3 linked regions of the Homo sapiens genome follow. The protein of the gene in region 1 interacts with the protein of each later gene in a biochemical or structural test. Each region holds a gene or a part of one and is shown in the gene's direction. Other genes may lie near its edges.

Evidence for each region. The genes of interacting proteins can lie anywhere in the genome.
Region 2: the proteins of STON2 (region 1) and EPS15L1 interact in a biophysical measurement, tested with the Homo sapiens proteins (one study listed by IntAct).
Region 3: the proteins of STON2 (region 1) and SYT2 form a complex in vitro, tested with the Homo sapiens proteins (one study listed by BioGRID).

The regions. Positions count from the first base shown.
Region 1 is NC_000014.9:81,278,310-81,285,335, reverse strand, and holds part of STON2 (stonin-2), read left to right. Parts: intron 1-6,596; coding exon 6,597-7,026. UniProt on the Homo sapiens protein: Adapter protein involved in endocytic machinery. Involved in the synaptic vesicle recycling. May facilitate clathrin-coated vesicle uncoating.
Region 2 is NC_000019.10:16,419,971-16,426,996, reverse strand, and holds part of EPS15L1 (epidermal growth factor receptor substrate 15-like 1), read left to right. Parts: intron 1-1,680; coding exon 1,681-1,914; intron 1,915-5,520; coding exon 5,521-5,678; intron 5,679-7,026.
Region 3 is NC_000001.11:202,700,455-202,707,480, reverse strand, and holds part of SYT2 (synaptotagmin-2), read left to right. Parts: intron 1-7,026. UniProt on the Homo sapiens protein: Exhibits calcium-dependent phospholipid and inositol polyphosphate binding properties. May have a regulatory role in the membrane interactions during trafficking of synaptic vesicles at the active zone of the synapse.

The DNA.
Region 1 (7,026 bases):
AACTTTTACAAACTCCTGTGAATGTTAACTTCTCTCATGAATCACAGATGTTTGTAATGGCATCTAGAATGATGAATCCTTTCCAGGAGGTTGTCAGTTTACTTTGCCCCAATCCATCAGAGGAATTACTATCTATGGCAGCCTTACAAAATGTATTTCTTAAATAAGAAGACTTGAAAATCACAATTACTCCTTGATCCATGGGATAGAGAATGGATGTTGTGTTCCACGGCTGCAGGCATGAAAACAACATTAATCTCCTTGTACATCTCTATCAGTGCTCTTGGGTGGCCAGGTGCATTGTCAGTGCGTAGTAATATTTTTGGAAGGAACCTCTTTTTTCTGAGCGGTAGGTCTCAACCTGGGCTTACAATATTCAGTAATTCCTGCTGTAAACAGATGCGTTGTCATCCGGGCTTTGTTCTTCCATTGACAGAGCACAGGCAAGGTAGATTTGCATAATTCTTAAGGGTGCTAAGATTTTTTGAATGGTTAATGAGCAATGGCTTCAACTTAAAGTCACCAGCCACATTGGCCACTAGCAAGAGAGTCAGCCTGTCCTTTGAAGTTTTGAAGCCAGGCATTGACTTTTCTCTAGCTATTAACATCCTAGATGGCATCTTCTTCCAGTAAAAGGCTGTTTTATCTTCAGTGAAAATCTGTTGCTTAGTGTAGCCACCTTCCTCAATTATATTAGGTAAATATTTTGGATAACTTGTTGCAGCTTCTACATTAGCACTTGCTGTTTGACCTTCTACTTTTATGCTATGGAAATGGCTTCTTTCCTTAAACCTCATGAACCAACCTCTGCTAGCTTTATTTATTTATTTATTTTTTCTGCAATTTCCTCACCTCTTTCCACTTTCATAGAATTGATGAGAGGTAGGGCCTTCCTCTGAATTAGGCTCTGGCTTAAGAGAATGTTGTCACTACTTTCTTATCATTCATGTGTTCACTGAAGTGGCACTTTTAATTTCCTTTGAGAAGTTTTCCTTTGCATTCACAACTGGGTTAACTGGCATGGAAGGCCTAGCTTTTGGCCTGTCTCCGCTTTTGACATGCCTTGTTCACTAAGCTTACTCATCTCTCACTCTTGATTGAAAGTAAGAGACATATAACTCTTCATCTGAATACTTAGAGGCCATAGTGGGATTCTTAATTGGCCTAATTTCAATATTGCTTTGTCTCAGGGAATAAGGAGGCCTGAAGAAGAGAGAGAGAGAGATAGGGGAATGGCCAGACTGTGGAGCAGCCCAGAACACACACATTTTATTGATTAAGTTTACCATCTTATATGGGCACAGTTTATGGTGCCCCAAAACAGTTACAATAGTATCATCAAAGATCACAGATCACTGTAACAGATATAATTATAGTGAAAATGTTTGAATGTTGCGAGAATTACCAAAACGTGACCCAGAGACAGAGTGAGCACGTGCTGTTGTAAAGATGGTGCTGACAGACTTTGGGTTGCCACAGATCTTCTAGTCATAAAAAATGCAGTATCTGCTGGGTACAGTGGCTCACGCCTGTAATCCCAGCACTCTGGGAGGCCGAGGCGGGCGGATCATGAGGTCAGGAGATCGAGACCATCCTGGCTAACACAGTGAAACCCCGTCTCTACTAAAAATACAAAAATTAGCCGGGCGTGGTGGCAGGCACCTGTAGTCCCAGCTACTCAGGAGGCTGAGGCAGGAGAATGGCTTGAACCCGGGAGGCGGAACTTGCAGTGAGCCGAGATAGCGCCACTGCATTCCAGCTTGGGCAACACAGCGAGACTCCATCTCAAAAAAAAAAAAAAAAAATGCAGTATCTGTAAAGTGCAGTACAAAAAGACGAGGTATGCCTTTATATGCTGTTATGTAACAGTCACTGCTCTTGCATGTTTAGAAGCCTGCAGTGATGTTAGAACATTTGTTCTTGCCACTCCTAATAAATTCCAGTGAACATTTGTCAATATGGTTTTTTTACAAATTAGGTTAACAAATAAGGGAAAGAAGATAGTAGAGTCTCTATGTTCAAAATGTAGACAATTTTCCTGCCATAGTTCTTACTTTTTATTCAGTTTTAGTGGCTTTGACTACTACTGAAATCACTTTATTTAATTTAATCTTTTAGGAGCTTGAAATAGATTGCGGCCTAACATTAAAAGAATCCACCACTTCTCTTTAGTTTGCATCAGTAAAGACACTAGGAACCTCTTAGGTACTGGAAATTTTCCCTGTGGTGTAGACTGAGAACCTAATCCTTACACATGGCTTTTGTTTGGCAGCAGCCCGACTCATAATAAAAACAATTTGGAGGTAGCCAGTGGAAGGGATAGTAATTAAAATAATGCTGGAGTTTGGGTTTTGGTTTTATTTTAATAAATTAGTAAATTGAATTGTGGAGAAGAATTAGCTTTGTGATCAAGATACTTGGTTTTTGCCTATTTCTTACTGGAGAAATTTGCCAGCTTTTCCCCCTCTCATTGTTTCCAGTCCCAGCCACACCAGTCATAATTGTCTTGGGAAAGATCTAACTGCTGCTTTCTCAATACAGACTATAGCTAAGCACTTTGTTTCCTTTCTCTAAGGCTAATTAGTAGTAATAATAAAGAGATGTTTTGAACTTTTATTATAATGCTATGTTGCTTTATTTTGTAAGGAACATTGCAGTTTTTGAAAGAAAGAATACAGATTTCGAATTTTTTAAATCACCTCTTATCCCATGAGAGATTTGTTTTCACATCAAAATATTACGAGATTATTATATTCCAAAGCTTTCTAATACATACGTACTTTCTATAATGACACATTATCATTCTAGTAGTAGTAGTAGTAGTAGCAGTAGTACTAAGAACAGCCTACATCTACTGAGCATTTATTATTTGTCTGGTAGGATTTAATATTTCCCTAATTTAATATATAGGAAAACTGAGATAGAGGGAAATTTAAGACTTGCCTAGAATCACATATCTAAAAAGCCGTAGGTATGGAATTGAAACGCAGGCAATTTGACTGCAGATTTTAGGTGTTTCTTGTTATTCACTCAACAATATGTCCTAGTCAACTTCCGTGTGAATTAACATGCATCAAGAGCATCATCTTGACAGCTACATGGAATTTCATTTTAAGGGTATGACCACTGATGTAACTAGTCTCCCATTGTTGGGCATTCAGGTTTTTTCATGTTTTTCTGTGATAGAAGCATTGCTGTAATAAACATCACTGTGTACATCGTTGCATGCTTGTCCTGTTATTTCCTTAGGATAAACTCTTAGAATTTATTTCTTACAATTCTCAGATTTCTTTAAATAAATTATTTCATAGAAAAACAAAATCTCAATTTCAGAAATTTTACCTATGCCCTGCTACCATCCCAGAGAATAAGTTTTAAAAATACATGCAATTATGGGACATGAAACTGCCAAAGGGAAGATAATTTTGTAACAAAGTCTTTTGATATTTTTTAATGACTGTCAGAAAGAAAATAGAATCCCTAGAAATTAATTGAATTCAAACATTTCCCTTCAAATTTAAAGACACTTGTTTAATTTGTATTATAACTCTAATGCTTCAAAACTGTTTAGGACTTGGCGTGATTTAAACTAACTTGGTTTGAAAAGGAATTTATTGTAAGAAAATGATCTTCAGTAGGGACAAAGGCCTTTTTTTCTCTTTTCATTTTTGGCTTAGAAGATGAGAAGGGCTGTTTTGAGGACAAGATTCCCAACAGAAGGGAATCCTTTGGTGGCAAGTGTAAACAGCTTTGGCAGAAAGCCGCCCTCCAAAGAAAAAGGACTTCAGCTTGTTTTAAACTACAGGGTGAGCTCCAAGACAAAAAGGATAACCCTGATGCCAGGGGTGGGCCAATAGAGATTGTTTGGGTGGAAACACTACATCACAAAGGCTCTCTAGAGCTGCCTCATTAGAAGTTGATGAGTTTTGAGATGTACCCCTTTCCCAGTTCTCTAGACAGGATCAATTACCATTCCAAGGAAGTGATTATATTTCACTCAGGACCACAATGTTCCTTTTAGACTTTGTTACCAAAATGATAAATAAAATATAAATACTGTAAGTGTAGGTTGTTTCCTGACCGTTTTCCCTTCGATTTTCAGAAAATTAATCACTTATACAAAACTGGATTCATGCTTAATTTGAAGGAGATTCTCATCTTTAATTTAAAAATGCTTTAGAATCCTTTTTAGTCACTGTAGATATAGAAAATGCTTTTCGCTCATTTTGTTTCTGGGGTGGGTATGGATATGTGTATATGTATATGCATACTCGTGTTTAGCCTACAGCCTACATTTTCTTTTCTTTTCTTTTTTTTTTTTTTTTGAGACGGAGTTTCGCTCTATCGCTCAGACTGGAGTGCAGTAGCGCCATCTCGGCTCACTGCAACCTCTGTCTCCCAGGTTCAAGCACTTCTCCTGCCTCCGCCTCCCGAATATCTAGGATTACAGGCTTGTGCCACCACGCCCAGCTAATTTTTGTATTTTTAGTAGAGACAGGGTTTCACCATTTTTGCCAGGCTGGTCTTGAACTCCTGACCTCAAGTGATCTGCCCGTCCCGGCCTCCCAAAGTGCTGCGATTACAGGCATGAGCCACCGTGCCCGGCCTAGCCTACATTTTCAAACTTACGTTTTCATTTGAGAGAATTGCTATCTGTTTGAATAAATTACTTGGAAAGATGGGTGACAAGCCAGCATCCCATCCTTGTATAATTATGTGCAATTATGTGCGGCATTGCTGATGGGTGTGGTTGGATGTGATATGCATGAAGATGTAGTGAGGTGGTCAGAAAACTCAGTCATTTGAGTATCCATTTCCCTTTGATTCCAAACAACTGGCCATAGAAACAGTGGGTAGGATGGTAGCAGAGATCCCCTATACCCATTCCTGCAGAGACGTAGAGAATGGAAGAGCTACTCTAAAGCAAAGTTTCTTTTCTCACTTATTTAATCAAAAAACCTTATTGAGTACCTACTATATGCACACATTTGTTGTCTGTGCTGTTCCTTCATCAGAATTCATTCCTCCTTGCTAAAAGCCTCATTTCCCCTCCCTTCCCACAGCCCCAGCAGATACCCACGGTCCTTAGGTTACTGAAAAAGTTTAGATCTTGCCCTCATCAAACCCAAGTCCTGTATCTCTTTCCTTGAAGGCCCTGCTAAAGTGGAGTTTTATTTGTAATAACCTTTTTATCATAAAAAATAAACTTCGAGATGGAAAAATATTTTAGAGAAAAAAAGGAGATTATATCATGAGCATTTTCTCCTGATATACTGCCTACTTGTAAACATTTTAGTGGGTGGGTATTATTTTATTGTAGGCTTCAATTTCTTAACACTCACCCAATTGTTGAATATTTAAAATATTTTTCCCTATTATAAATAATGCCAAAATGGACATCTCTGTTCTTCAAACTTGGTTCATAATTTAGATTTATTTTCTTAGGGTAGAATTACTAAGTCATTGTTTATTAACATGTGTTAAGATCCTTAATATAAATTGCCCAATCTCTTTTCAGAGCATCTGTTGCAACTTAGTTTCACTAAGCATCCACTTAGTGCTCCTATTATGGCACCTTTACCCTCATTGAGCACTAAAATCTTTCAAAATCTTCACTGATTTTTTTTTTTTCATTTTTCATTTTTGAGACAGAGTCTCGCTCTGTTGCCCAGGCTGGAGTGCAGTGGCACAATCTCCGCTGACTTCTATCTCTGCCTCCTGGGTTCAAGTGATTCTCCTGCCTCAGCCTCCCAAGCCGCTGGGATAACAGGTGCCTGCCACTACGCCCAGCTAATTTTTTTGTATTTTTAGTAGACATTGGGTTTCACCACGTTGGCCAGGCTGGTGCCGAATTCCTGACCTCGTGATTTGCCCACCTCGGCCTCCCAAAGTGCTGGGATTACAGGCATGAGCCACTGTGCCCGGCCATTTTTCTTATTACTAGTGAGATTCGATATTTTTCACATACTTACTAGACATTTTTTAGTTTCTCTTTCATGAGTTGTCTATGTTCTTTACTCAGACTTCTTTTGGGGTTTTTGTGTTTTTCTTATTCACATGTATGAACCTACTGAATATTAAGAAGGTTAACTGTTTGTCTTTAATATTTATTCATTATGTTTAGGCTAAAATCCCTCCAAGAATATTATTTATAATCATATTATCACTTACAGACGATAACTTGGTTTTTTTCAGTGAGATGAGCTTATATCATTTTATATAGGAGATGGCTTTCAATGTTTAAAAATTAAGAACACATTCCTCAAAGCTAAGTACAGAACACATCTATTCCAGAAGCTTTTATAAAATAAGGAAGAGTATATAAATTGCAAGAGACCTTGGTACTACCAGTCAATACTTCTGTATTGATATAGCCATTGGGTTCTTATTGCACTTAATGCGATAGCTCCTCTGGGGTGCTCATTACAGAATTGTGAGATCTATGCCCAGACTAAGCACTTGAAACAGATAATGAGCTGCTTTGGAATGTACTGGATTCCAGTTAAAATTCTAGTAATCCCTCATTCCTATACTTCAGTTTTCCTTACCTCTAGAGCCCCTGAACAGTAGCTCATATGTTCTCCTTTTCCTTTTAGACAATTCCTCCTCGCTTCAAGAAGATGAAGAAGTAGAGATGGAGGCCATCAGCTGGCAGGCCAGCAGTCCAGCCATGAATGGGCACCCTGCCCCTCCAGTGACCTCTGCTCGTTTTCCCAGCTGGGTCACCTTTGATGACAATGAAGTCAGCTGCCCTTTACCACCAGTCACCTCTCCTCTGAAGCCAAATACACCACCAAGTGCATCTGTGATCCCAGATGTACCTTATAATTCAATGGGATCATTTAAGAAGAGGGACCGTCCCAAGAGCACTTTGATGAACTTCTCCAAAGTTCAGAAGCTGGATATTTCCTCTTTAAACCGCACGCCTTCTGTAACTGAGGCTTCACCTTGGAGGGCAACCAACCCTTTCCTGAATGAGACTCTGCAGGATGTACAGCCCTCCCCTATCAACCCTTTCAGTGCTTT
Region 2 (7,026 bases), on another chromosome or scaffold:
ACAAACACTTCAGTGCGTATTTCCTAAAAACAAGGACTTCTCTCACACATAACCATTATCCACTTCAAAATCAGGAAATTCACATCATAGCATTGCATTTATGATGTTTTCATTATATCCTGTATATACCCCTTATATTCTGTATGAGCGTGTCTATTATTATCTAATCCCAGGATATTACTCAGATTTTATCAGTTGTCCCAAAAATGTTCCTTGTGTCTAAAGAGAACCCAGTCCTGTGTGTTACATCCTGTTGTCTTTTGTCTTTCGTTTCCTGGGATCTAGAACAGTTCCTCCATCGCTCTTCGTGTCTCTTGACGTGGACTTTTTGTTTTTTTGTTGTCGTTGTTCTGTTTTTGAGAGGGAGTCTCACTCTGTCATCTAGGCTGGTGTGCAGTGGCATGATCTCAGCTCACTGCATCCTCCACCTCCTGGATTCAAGCGATTCTCCTGCCTCAGTCTTCCAAGTAACTGGGATTATAGGTGCCCACCACCACAGCCAGCTAATTTTTTTTTTGAATTTTTAGTAGAGATGCGGTTTCTCCCTGTTGGCCAGGCTGGTCTTGAACTCCTGACCTCAGGTGATCTGCCCGTCTCGGCCTCCAAAGTGCTGAGATTACAGGCATGAGCCACCATGCCTGGTTTCAACGTGGACATTTTGAAGAGCACAGGCCAGCAGTTATGGAGTGTTCCTAGGCCTGGGCCTGGCTGCCAGGTCCTCTTGATGACCCAGGTCATGCACTCTTGTGAGACAGGAATCCCACGGAGGTCACACCCGCCCCACATGGGCCTCCCACCTGGGGGAACGTGATGTCAACATGTCTTCTTACTGCCATGTTGACATTCATCACTGGGTCAAGGTGGGTCAAGGTTGTGGGTTCCTGTGGGCAGTTGCTCTTTTTCCCTCTGTGCTCAGTTCATCTCATGTGGGGCACGCCTTGATACGGTCAACACCCATGACTCTCAGACTCTTCCATGAGAGTTCCACCATCGCTGATGAGTCTCGCCTTAATCTGGCAAGATTAATTATGATGATGGTGGCTGCCAAATGGTGATGTGCTAATCAAAACCATCATTCCTTGCACTTTTATTAGTTGGCCTTCCACAAGGAATTTATTTCTATGGCTGTGGCCTGCCTCATGGATGCATCCTCAGTTCCACTGTTTTTTGTTTTGTTTTGTTTTGTTTTATAGAGACAGAGTCTCGCTCTGTCACCCAGGCTGGAGTGCAGTGGCGCGATCACAGCTCACTGCAGCCTCCATCTCCTGGGCTCAGGCAATCCTCCCACCTCAGCCTCCCAAGTAGCTGGGACTACTCCTGAACGTCTTGAAGTACAGGTCTCTCTTCTGGTGTCTTTAGACTTCCAAATCCAGTACTGGGAAGGTGCCAGCCCTGGAGCTGGTGGCCTCCCTGAGTGGTGAAGGGATGCATATGGAGTCTGGCTTGATTGGATTCTTTCTGTGTGCATTTCAGTCTCGAGGAATAATTCAACACATGTCTTGGAAAGTTACACATAAAAGATAACTCATGAGGAATGATTTCTTTTCACTCTGGTCAGCTTGGGAGCGTCCTGACAGAGTGTCCTGTCACTGCAGCCCCCAAAGGGCTGCCCTCTGCCTTCTCCTGATGGTCCCGGCCCCAGCCTTGCCCCTTCAGTGCCATTGTTGTTTGCACCTGCAGGCCATGCACTTGGTGTACCGAGCCCTGGAGAAGGAGCCCGTGCCCTCCGCCCTGCCCCCGTCCCTCATCCCACCCTCCAAGAGAAAGAAGACTGTGTTCCCTGGCGCCGTCCCCGTCCTGCCTGCCAGCCCCCCACCAAAAGACAGCCTCCGCTCCACGCCGTCCCACGGCAGCGTCAGCAGCCTCAACAGCACAGGGAGCCTGTCCCCCAAGCACAGCCTCAAGCAAACACAGGTACGGAGCCCTCAGCGGGCACAGCCCCCTCTCAGAGCACAGTAGGATGTTTCTCGGGAGTTCTTAACATGCAACCCCAGAACGGTCAAGCTTGTGATGAAATGTCTTTAAAAAATGCTTGTGGCCAGGTGCGGTGGCTCACGCCTGTAATCCCAGCACTTTGGGAGGCCGAGGTGGGCAGATCTCAAGGTTAGGAGATCAAGACCATCCTGGCCAACATGGTGAAACCCCGTCTCTACTAAAAATACAAAAAAATTAGCTGGGTGTGGTGGTGCGCACCTGTAATCCCAGCCACTCGGGAGGCTGAGGCAGGAGAATTGCTTGAACCTGGGAGACGGAGGTTGCAGTGAGCTGAGAGCGCGCCACTGCACTCCAGCCTGGGCAACAAGAGCGAAACTCTATCTCAAAAAAAAAAAGTATTCATTTATCTCATTATTTCAACATGGTCTCCCCTATGTTACTCAGGCTGGTCTTGAACTCCTTGGCTCAAGTGATCCTCCTGCCTCGGCCTCCCAAAGTGCTGGGATTACAGGTGTGAGCCACCGTGCCCAGCCTGTGTCTGCAGAGCTCTTGCCAAGAGTTTTGAAAGTCAGGTTAGGGGAGGTACTTTACTGGCAACGAAGCTAGTGGGGCCAAACTCACTGGTAGGCACAGGTCACCCAGCGTCATAACCCACCTCTCTAGTGATCTTCTGGTGGTTCTCTCAAGACCCTCTGACTAGACCGATTTTACCAGTGGCCCCTGGTGGGGTGGGGTGGGAGGGTATAGCTCCTGCCCCCACGACGGCATTGGTAGGATCACAGTCATGAAAACGAGCATTTCTGGGGGCCTACAGTCCACATGCTCCCCCTACTCCAACTTCCTCATCTCCAGGCCAGCAATGCTCTTGTCTGGGCCTCCCAAGGGCCACCCGATTTTGCCCTCATGCCAGGTTTGAGTGAAGCCACTTCCAGCCACCAGGGTCTGATATCCTTCCTTTGGGACCTGTGGCTGCTGAGCCGGCCTTAAAGCCCAGCTGTCACTGGGAGAGCCAGCTCCACGGCAAGGCTGCCCCGTGTTGGGTTTATAGTCAATTTGGCATCAGAATCTTGCTGCTAACATACTCTGAGGCTCCAGAAATCAGGCAGTGAGTTCCTTTTGTTTGCCCAGCAAGTATTATTAGGACTCTTGTCATCCCAGAGCTATAATTTCATACGTAATTTCTTCTTGGGACCCGTGGGACACAGAACCCCCCTTGTTTCTGTGTCCCGCCACAGCTCAGCTTGTCTGACTCCTGTTACCTCTTTGTGATCCCTGGCTTCTGAGGTTAGCTTGCTGTAGCTCCGTGACTTAAAAGGCAGCAAGCCCATTTCTCATTAGAATTCCTTTATTGGCATCTTTACGTCCACCAGACTTGAGAAGGCTCACAAAATTTACACAGTACAATGCCACAAGTAAAAATCAGGTTGCTCTTGCCATCTGAACTCTCATCATTTGAATTAGATCCATAGATTTTTTTTTTTTAAATATATAAGAGACAGGATCTTGCTCTGCTGCCCTGGCTGGAGTGCAGTGGTGCAATCACGGCTCATTGCTATCTCAACCTCCTGGGCTCAAGTGATCCTTCCACCTCAGCCTCCCTAGTAGCTGGAATAGGTGGATGCCACCACACCTAGCTAATTTTATTTATTTATTTATTTTGTAGAGATGGGGTCTTGCTGTGTTATGCTGGCTGGTCTTGAACTCCTGGGCTTGAGGGATCCTCCTGCCTTGGCCTCCCAAAGTGCTGAGATTACAGGCATGAGCACTGTGCCTGGCCTAGCTCCATGGATTTTGATAAATTGTTTGATCAAGTCCTTGCTGTACTTCATCACACATACTTGCTACGTGAAACCCCTGAACTAAGCTGATCTGGGTCACATGGTATCCCTTGTTTCCCAAGCTTGCTTTCTGATTTCCCTGAGTTGGTATCAGGAGCCTGTTAGATTTGGACATCACAGGAGACTCGTTCATGAAGAGTAAACGAGTTTAACCATTGTTTCCCAGTCTTGACCATGAGTCCCTTCTCCTCAATCCTATGGACATCTTCGGGTTGTCAACACTGTGAGAACTCTTTGAGAAATCCCCCCCCCCTTTTTTTTTCCCCGAGACGGAGTCTTGCTCTGTCGCCCAGGCTGGAGTGCAGTGGCACAATCTCAGCTCCCTGCAACTTCTGCCTCCCAGGTTCAAGCAATTCTCCTGCCTCAGCCTCCTGAGTAGCTGGGATCACAGGTGCCTACCACCACACCTGGCTAATTTTTCGTGTTTTTAGTAGAGAGGGGGTTTCACCATGTTGGCCAATCTGGTCTCAAACTCCTGGCCTCAGGTGATCCACCCACCTCAGCCTCCCAAAGTGCTGGGATTATAGGTGTGAGCCACTGCACCCAGCCTAAGAAATCCTTTCATAACTGAGAGGAATGACTTTGAGTGGCAGTTTCAGGCATCATGGCGTTCATTGAAGGTGAGGAGTGGAGTGGCTTTTCTGTACAGTTGCTGCGTGGAGAAGGAACAATCGATCCCTCCAGCCACATTTGCCTGTCCTTTTTCTCTCCACTCCCTCATCATCTAGATAATTCAATCAGGTGTTTATTCTCATTGCTATTATGAGATTGTTTAAAAGGAGTGATTTGTGTAAATATTTAAAAAAAAAGGGAAGAGGAAAAGCACGTCTAGAGTTCAGGACACAGATGCCGTGAACTGTGGCGTGGTGGGTGTATTGAAGGCCCGCGGTAATGCAGGTGGAGTAGGCCACGGAAGGGGCCTGCCCCTGAGTGCCTGAGGGGCCTCAATGCCTCTGAACCAGGAGGTGACCGGGCCCTGGTTGACCCATGATGGCGTTTGCCTCTCTCAAGTTAACTGTGAGCTGGTGGCGAGAGGGGTCGCACGTGCAGCGGGTGACCCAGCCCCAGGGCTGTGAACTTTGAGCTGCACTGGGCTCGTGGCTCCATCTGCCCTGGTGGGGTTGGGGCTGCATGAATGTTGGTGGGGCCTCGTGGGTGGTGGCCCTCTTGGATGGTGGTGTCTCATTTGTTACCTGTCAGTGACGTGTGTGTACTCACACCTTGGGGGTATCTTTGTTGTCTCAGGAGTGGGGCAGGGACATAGAAGGGTGGTCTTCAGAGTCCTGGGACAGGACACTTTGGCTGCCTGTAGGGCAGCCTTTGCGGGCTGAGGAGTGGGAGGACCAGGGAGGCTGGCATGTGGCCGGGCCGGTTCTCCAGGGACGGTCCTTCCAAGTGGGTGCTCGGGAGGGTCTTTCCTGGCATGCTTGAACCCATCCCCTGAAGATCACAGCCTCCCTCACACCCTGGGTGGCAGGGTGGATGGACAAGGAGAGCGGGTGATGGGGTGGAGAGAGGTGCAGACTGGCATCTGGGTGAGCTTCACAGAGCCAGCCTCAACCTGTCTCAGCCTCAGTTTTGCCAGTTACAGAACAAGGATCACATCTGCCCTCTTGGCTCATGGAAGTGAGGAGAGTTTGATGCCAAATGTGCATGGAAGTGCTTTAATCGCCCCATCATCAAAAAGCATGTGTCTGGGGGTCATAAAAAGCTTCCAGATTAACTGTTTTGCCAAAAACTGTTTCAGCCAACAGTGAACTGGGTGGTGCCCGTGGCAGACAAGATGCGATTTGATGAGATATTCCTGAAGACCGACCTGGACCTGGATGGCTACGTGAGTGGCCAGGAGGTGAAGGAGATCTTCATGCACTCGGGCCTCACCCAGAACCTTCTAGCACACATATGGTAAGGCCGGACAGGTGGCAGTTGTGGCTGTGGGTGGCTCCAGGGGGCCTGTGGGTGAAGACTGTGGAGGGTGGTGGTCAGGGGGCCCCCTCCAGCCTGTCACAGGCTTCCGCTGTGTCTGGCGTCCTTTATTCTCCCTGGCCTGACAGAGGCTGAGCAAGGTGCACGTGCCAAGGCTCGAAGCCCGCGCTCCGTGACGGTCAGTTCACTGTCTTTCAGTAGGAAGGGCCTCTGGTCCGTCTTAAGTGCTCCCAGGCCATTTGCTTACACAGCTGGGCCCTATTCTTGCTGGCTGTGATGCTGGCTCTAACAGGAGGCCTGGACTTTGTCACAGCCGCCTCCGGGAGGTGCGGGCAGCAGGGCCTTGGAGCCTCTAGCAGAGTGGCCTGGCAGGGTGAGGGCGGGGGCAGGAGGCCCTGCTCTGGAAAGGCCAGTGCTTTGGCTCCTGGCGGGAGGGTGAGCACAAGGAGACCCTGTCAGTGCCTCAGAGCCCAGTCGAGGAGTCGGCCTCAACCCCTCTTTCCCCCAGGGCTGGACACAGCCGACTTCATAGGGCTGGGGCACTCCTCTTGCCACTGGCCAGGGCTGAAGTCACTTTTGAGCTTGTTGCTCAGAGCCTTGTGGCCTTAGAGAAGGCTTCACTTGGGAGCTATCAAAAGGAAAGAATTGCTGGATAATTCTCGAGAGGCAAATACCTCCAAGTAGAGCAGTGAAATTCAGGATGTTACTTAGTGGCTTGGGGGAAATGACTGTCCTTAGTGGTAATTCACAGATGACCACACTGTGAGGTGGGAGCCTGAGAACTAGCTGTCGCAGAGTCATCACCCAAATGGCCAAGCCGCCTCCAACTGGCTAGGGACAGTGGGTCTCAGCTGCCTCAGATCCAGTGTCCCTTTTAGAAACCAACAAAACACAGTGTCCCCTTTATGACTCTGAAACCAACACACATACAGTTCCTGGTTAGCGCCCTGACACCCTGACTGTCATGTCTAGGGGTCAGTAGAGGGAAAGTAATTTATAATGCATGCTGCAATTGACACATGATGTAATGACATGGAAATGACACAGGAAATCACTAATCCACCTGGATCAAAAGAAGGAACTCAGAGGTCATTCCATGCGGGCAGCAAAGGGGAAGGAAAGGATGATCAGGCTCTTGAATAACCATGAGAAAAGAAGTCTAGATGTGTCTGCGAGTGGCTGGGGCGGGGCATGGCCCAATGTAGATGACACACCAGGAGGGACTGGGAGGAGGGGGAGCATGAAGACAGAGGCTTTTTCCCTGCGATGGCTGCCACCGTACGGGTCAGCAGAGCAGGATGTGGTGTCAGAGCCGGATGGCCGCTGA
Region 3 (7,026 bases), on another chromosome or scaffold:
TAGCTGAAGCCAGAGTATCCCCACCACTGAAGGTCCAGGGTGGTGGGGATACTCTTTAAGAACTGGAACAGCAAGTCAGAGGGAGTAATGGGGGGGCAGGGTCACTCAGTGCAGTGGTTAAATATGAAGCACCAAAGAATGGAGGCTAGGAGATAGACAGGCCTGGGTTCAAATCCCAGGGCTGCTAAGTACAAAGTCTGACATTTGCAACAAGTATTTTATTAGTGAGTACCTACCATGTGCCACTATTGTAGTCTCTCTGGGTGGGGAGGTGAGCACAGCCGCAGGCCCTACACATGTTACTGAGCCACTCAGCATCCCTTCTGCATTCGTTCCACTATTGCATTTTGAGAATCTGTGCTAGGCAATGGAGATTCAGGTGGGAACAAAACAGACCTGTTTCCTGCCCTCGTGGCATTTACAATCTAGTGAATACCACACAATTAGATAATTACATAAAGAATTCATCATGACTGTGCCAAGAGTTATGAAGGTATGTAGGAAGCTTCGAGAGCATGTAACAGGATGATCTGACAATGTCTGCACAGTTTTCTCTAAAGAACAGAGGTAATAATGCTTAACTCTCAGGGTAGTATTGTAGAACTGATAACTATTCGTGTTATTTTAGAAGTAGCCCCTGGACCACCAGACAGATGCAGTTCTAAATTCCCTACGTGAATAATCCATCCATAGGCAACAAGTTGATTCTTCATCTTCCACTCAGTCAGAGAAGCCAGGCCAGAGAAGCTGGGATTCAGTTATGGCTTCTCCTGGACTCCAGAAGCCTGTGATAAATAATATAGTTTCATTGGAGAAACATCAAGTCAGAGATTTTTTTCTAAGTGGCAGTATAGTGACTACAGCCAGATTGCCAGGGTTCATCCTGGTTCTGCCACTTGCTGTGATTTTGGGCGAGTCAATCACACTCTGTTTTTTAGTCTTGCCATCTGTAGAATGGAGCTAAAATTTGTAACTATGACGTAGATTGTTCTTGGTGAGGATGAAATGGGTTAATTCCTGTAAAGCGTGTAGAACAGTGCCTGGCGCGGGAGGAGTAAGTGCTTTTCATCCTTGGGTGGCCTGCGTGCTCCTTTTCCTGCCCACACACACAACACTGTCTTGGGTTCTCCAGCTGCAGGGAGCACTGTCCACCTTTGATATTCTTAAAACTCAAGGGAAGGAGTTGCCCTCACCGTCTTGGTGGTCAGTCCTGCATTTCATCCCCCTCACTCGAAGACGGTTTTTATGCCTAATGAGTCTTTTCTTGCCAAAGCTTGATTTCTGGGAAGGATTTGTCCCAGCAATCCTTCATTTTCATCTCTGGAACTGACAGTTCAAGGAAGTAGCCAGAGTGATGGGTAAATTTGGATCCAGGCCCAGAGGGACCTGAGAGTCACTGTGAGCCTGGAGGGCAGGGGAACACCTAGCTGCCAGCCCCCTCCCCTAGAGAGGCTGGGTCTAAAATTAAACATCCAGAAGGACTCCCCAGGCCAGGTGCAGTGGCTCACACCTGTAATCCCAGCGCTTTGGGAGGCTGAGGTAGAAGGATCGCTTGAGCCCAGGAATTCCAGAGCAGGCTGGGCAACATATGGAGACCCTGTCTCTACAAAAAATTTAAAAATTAGCTGGGCATGGTGGCACACCAGGTTAAGCAGGAGGATCGCCTGAGCCCAGGAGGTCGAGACTGCAGTGAGCTATGGTCATGCCACTTCACTTCAGCCTGGAAAACAGTGAGATCCGGTCTCAAAAAAAAAAAAAGGACTCCCAAAATCCAAGATGAGCAGTAGATATTGTAGAAGCTTCCTCCCTGGATCATTTTCTGATGAGGATAAAGTCCCTGCTGGCTGAGTGCCAGGGAGGAGGTTAGATTCTGAAAGCCCCTCACACTTAGGGAAGTAGGATGTGAGTAGCAGGGTCCATTAAAATGGCCAAGCAGCCTCCAAATCTGAAAGAAAGGGGGGTTACCTGCTGCTGTAAAGTCAGGAGAGGCCCTTCCTTGGTCACTTTAGCCGGGGACCTCAGGATTTCAGCTTTTGCTGTCAGTAACACTAAGCATCAGGCATAAGAAAGGGCAAAGTCAGTGTGGGTCCCGCACAACAGGGAACCTCAGGGCTCCTCCCTGCGCCTCCTGCTCCCCTGCTCGGGGATAGAGCGGCTCACAAGGGCGGTCAAGCTCTCATCACTGCAGTCCTCGGCTACGCCATCGCTGTCCCCACTTTACAATGAACGGGCAAAGGCCCAGAGAAGTTGTGTGGTTCAAAATCCCCAGAGAAGTTGTGTGGTTGTTCAAAATCCCCAGATCATAGGCACTTTGCAGGGGGCCTTCCAGGCCACAGCAGCTGAGTGGTCAGAACCCTTCCTCCTCTCCTCGCCGCTTCTCACCAGCTCTACCTATGGCAAATGGAGCCCGAGAATACAGGTGCGGGTCCTTGGGATGAGGCCACTAACGCGTTGAGTAGAAGCAGGAGGCTGGGTGATTTAAATCAGGCAGCAGCCTTTACAAAAATTAGGCAGTGATTCCTTGGAGGAATTGAATCAGCTCTCCCTCCCTGATGTTGGGTTTCCTTGGGCTCTCCATAAGGGCTCTGGCACCTCCTTCAGGAACACCTGCTCTGAAGCAAGGAGGGAGGCCCCAGGGTGGGCAGTCTTGAGTGCATGATGGGACACCCCGCTGAATCCAGAGCTGCTCCAGCCTCAGCAGCCCTATCTGTGATGGCATGCTGATGTCATCAGCACCAAAAGCCCTTGCAGGTTTCAACTCGGCAATTAAACGGCTCCTCTGAAGCCCAGCAGCCGTGTGTGTGTGCATATGTGTGTATTCAGGGTCCTAGGGGTGGGCTGGGGAGGAGGGCCCCTTGCAAAGGCAGGGAGAATGGGAGTTAGTGGGTGTGTGACTGCTTCTCTCCTTCGGAGACTCCAGACCTGAGAAGTCAGATCCCTATGGGACTCACAGCCCAAAAGTCAACCCTTGCGTGCAGGTGTAGCCAGAGTCTAAACTCAGCCTGAGCCAGAGCACCCCATTCCTTCCTTACTTCCTACTTTCCTCCCGCCTTTTCCTCCACGTTCCACTCCAATGCACTAAGCACCTACTCTGTAAAAGGCACCTGGGATGTAAAGGAGAACTCAAAATAACCGTGTCTCCTCTATCAGCCTGGGCGCTCCCCAAGGCCAGGGCATGTTGTTTCTCCTCCTCTCCTGGGTCCCCCTAGCCCCCAAAGTGGAGTTCTGAAGCTGGGAGCATTGATGGTGGCTGGTGCAGAGTGACAGGGCTCCCAGATGCTCTCCAACCCCAGGATAGTCGCCTGTCAACACAAGGCTTTCCTCAATCACAAAGCTTGCTTCACTTCCTCCCATCCCCTGCAGAGAAACTAGAAGCCCAAGGGCCTCATCACTGGACAGTCTGGGACCAGGGGAGGACAGCAGCTGGGTGGGGAGTCAGGAAAGCTCCCCCGAGGCATTTGTCAGGTGCCTCTCAGTAAGGCAGGGAGTCCTCAGACCATGGAGAACTCTGGCAGGACTTGCCATAATTGGGTTGATACAGTGGCTCTGGAATTTAGTAATTAGGAAATATTGCAATTAGAGACGGAATTTACCCATTACTATTCCATGCATCTTAATACAGGGTGTAAGTGGTTGTAACTGTGAGCTTGGCACTAGGCATATGGGAAAATAGAAGTGAATGGAGAAATGGGATGAAGGAAGGAGGGGATGGGAGGAGCTTAACCCTTTCCATACCCGAGTAGACTGAAGGAGCAGCCTGGGGGTGATGCAGGGTTAGGGCGAGCCCAGCAGCCCACCGCATTTGTAAGAGGTGACCGAGGCAAAAATCACAGGCTCCCTCCGGACCTTCTGCTTCTTTAGCTCAGGTAGGATCAGATGCAGGGCTTGGCAGGGGTTAGGAGAGTGGTGATGGAGGCCAAGAGGGAGAGGCTGCAGGGGAGAAGGGCTCTTCTCCCAGTTTCCTGCTCAGCTGTGGAGAAACAGAAAAGAGTTGTAACCACCTGCAGTAGTGTGCATGTGAGAGACAGGAGAGGGTACCTTGTACCTTCATCTCTCCCTCCCCACTTGTTCCTTCCCCCGCCCTTCTTTTTACTCCCTTCCTCACTCCTACTCTTAGCTCCATTTTCCTCTGAAGTCAAATGAGGCATTTGTGGTATTGCAGGGCTGAGCTGGGTAGGGCCATGTGTATGGGCGGCGGAGGGAGGGGAGCGGTGGCCGGGGGTGGGAGGGTGGTAGCGTCAAAGAGGTGGTGCTCATTTTTTCCTTTCCAGACCAGAAATGCCTTCCCCAAGGTCAGCCAGTGCTCTGAGCTCCAAAGACCTTCCCAGAGAACCTCTGCTCCCTAAGGGCTGGGTGGTTTGAGAGAAATCTCTTTTCCTCACCATTGATTCCAGTCTGAACTAATGATCCAGATGTGTTGTGCATGTCCTTCCTCTTCTACAAAGTGACTCGGGAAGCAGTTTTTATGCTATTTGTAGAAAGGAAGCATTTTCTGGAGCGGGGCCTTCTCTGCTTCTGCTACACCTTAACTCCCTAGATTAGAGGAGAGCTGTGAGGCCGCAAGGAGGGGGGCCTGGAGAGGGGCTTGGGCTGAGGGTGGTAGAGGTCTCTGAGGACTGTCCTTGTCTTCTGCCTCCTGTGTTTATTTGGAGAAAAGCCCATTTAACAAATGTACAGGTCTTTACCTCTATCCCTCTTGGGGCTGTCTGCCATGTATCTTTCATTGTACCAACTCAGATGGACCAAGTGACGGCCCGGTCATAGGGCCTAAGATGGGATGTTAGGAGACGGGGTGGAGGCCTGCAAGCAGGAGGAGAGGGGACCACCCAGGCAACCCTCTAGAAGTGCAGGAAGGATGAACAAGAACCTATTGGTTAAGTGCTCTTGGGTCTTGGAGGGAAGCAGACCTAGGACTGAAATCCATCCTCACCACTAGGAGCTAAGAAGAGTTACAGGTAAACCCCAGGAAACTCAAGGGTGGCTGTGGCTAGGATCAGTGTTAGCGGGAAGCATGGAGTTAATTGGCTGTGGGAGGGCTCCCTCTCCCAGTTTGACTCTCCCACGAGTAGGAAAAGGCATCACTTTAATAAGGCTGCCCTGTTTCCAAATCAATCCTGGCATTGCAGGAGGCGAAGGGGGAAGCACAGCTGAGAAATTGGATTAGCTCTTTGATGCTGGGAACTGTGCTGGTTGCTGCTGCTGCAGCTGCAGGAGGCAGGGAAGCATCAAGAACTGAGCCTGCCATTGGCAAGCCAGCCCCAGACGTCTGAGGCTTCCCAGGGAGGCGTGCTCCACCCCCATTAGGTCTCCTACTGGTAGAGGGTGGCAGGGGTGCCCTGGGGCAGACAGTAATAGAAGCCCAGGTCCTCACCACTGCAAACCTGGAGGTGTCTTCGTGCCTCCCCTGGAGTAGATCGTGAGCCCCAAAGACCTCAGGAGGTGAGGCAATGGGGAAGGGGCAGAGGAGAGGCCCCCACAGCATGTTCTGTAGGGCATAACTGAAGCAGCGTGTGTGTGGCTGGGAGTCAGATGGCCTAGGTCAAACCAAGACTGCCACTTCCTGCCTGTGTGACCCTGGGCAAGTTACTTAAACTTTCTGAACTTCGGGGTCCTCATCTGAAAATGGAGACAGTAACACACAGGGAACAGGCCCTTGTGAAGTTTACCTTATAGCAGTAATCAAGATGGGGGCCACGGGTCCCTGGGAGTCCCTAAGAATTTTCAGGGGGGTCCATAAGGTCAAAGCAGTTTCCATGATGGCAATAAAGTTATTTGCCATTCCCATGCTTGACATTGATGGTGCTAAAGCAGTGGTGGGTGAAGCTGCTGGCACCTTACCATGAATCAAGGTAATAGTATCACACTGCACCCGTCTTTGTGTTCTTCCACACTACACACCCGCTAAGCAAAGTAATTGGTAAATAATGAAATGCCATTTTCAGTTAAGAATGTCTTCTTTTCATGAAGCAGCAAAGATTATAATTATATTGAAGCTTGATTCTGGAGTGCACATCTTTTTAATATTCTCTGTGATGGAATGAGAAGTACACATAAAGCACTTCTGCTTCTTACAGAAATATTACACAATAATTTCTCAAGCAACTGAACAGTGCCCATCACCTGTGCATCTGTTTGAGTTGCAGGCTGAACTAGCCATTTTTCCATGGGATACCATTTTATCTGAAAGAACAACCAACAAACTCCAGTTATTCAGACTTGGGTGTTGAGCAGGCATTTTTGCAAAAATGAACGAAGTGAGCTCGTCACTTCCAGAAAAACAACTGGCAGTATTTGTGGCCAATGATAAAATTTAAGCTTTCAAGCAAAAATTAGAATTTTGGAAAACTCACACATATTACTATGAAAAGGACTTTTGTGATAAGATCAGTGGGAATAGTAATAGATGTGATTTGTTAATATTGTTTAATGAAATTCATCAATATTTGAAAGATCTTCACAATTCGGCAAGCCAATATCTTCGAAATGATAAATGAATGATGTCACAAAATCATGCACAGAGGCAAACAAGCATTCCAAGTGCAAGGTTTCAGATTCCCCACTGCAGCCAGTCTTTAAGAAGCTACCACTTGGGGAGCAGTGATGTCATATCAAAGAAAAATATCCACAATGATCTGAAAAGGCTTTATTAAATACCCCTCCCCTTTCCAGTTACATATCTGAGTGAGGTTGGATTTTCTTTCATCTTTCAATCAAAGTAATGTATTGCAGACAGACCGAACACCGAAGTTGATATAAAACTCTAGCTACCTTCTAGTAAACCACACATTAAAGAGATTTGCAATGATGTGAAACAAGGCCTCCTTCTTACTAGATATTTTACTAGAGAAAACGTCTACTATATATTTTTTTGGTCTTGGAAAATATAGTTACTTATTAAATATGTTGTATTAACAGGTAATGAGTTACTATTGTATTTTGAGCTAATTTAGAAATTTCTCAGTTTTAATTTTGAATATGGTAACTATGGATGGATCTAACTTACATAAGAAAACGCTCTTGGAGGGT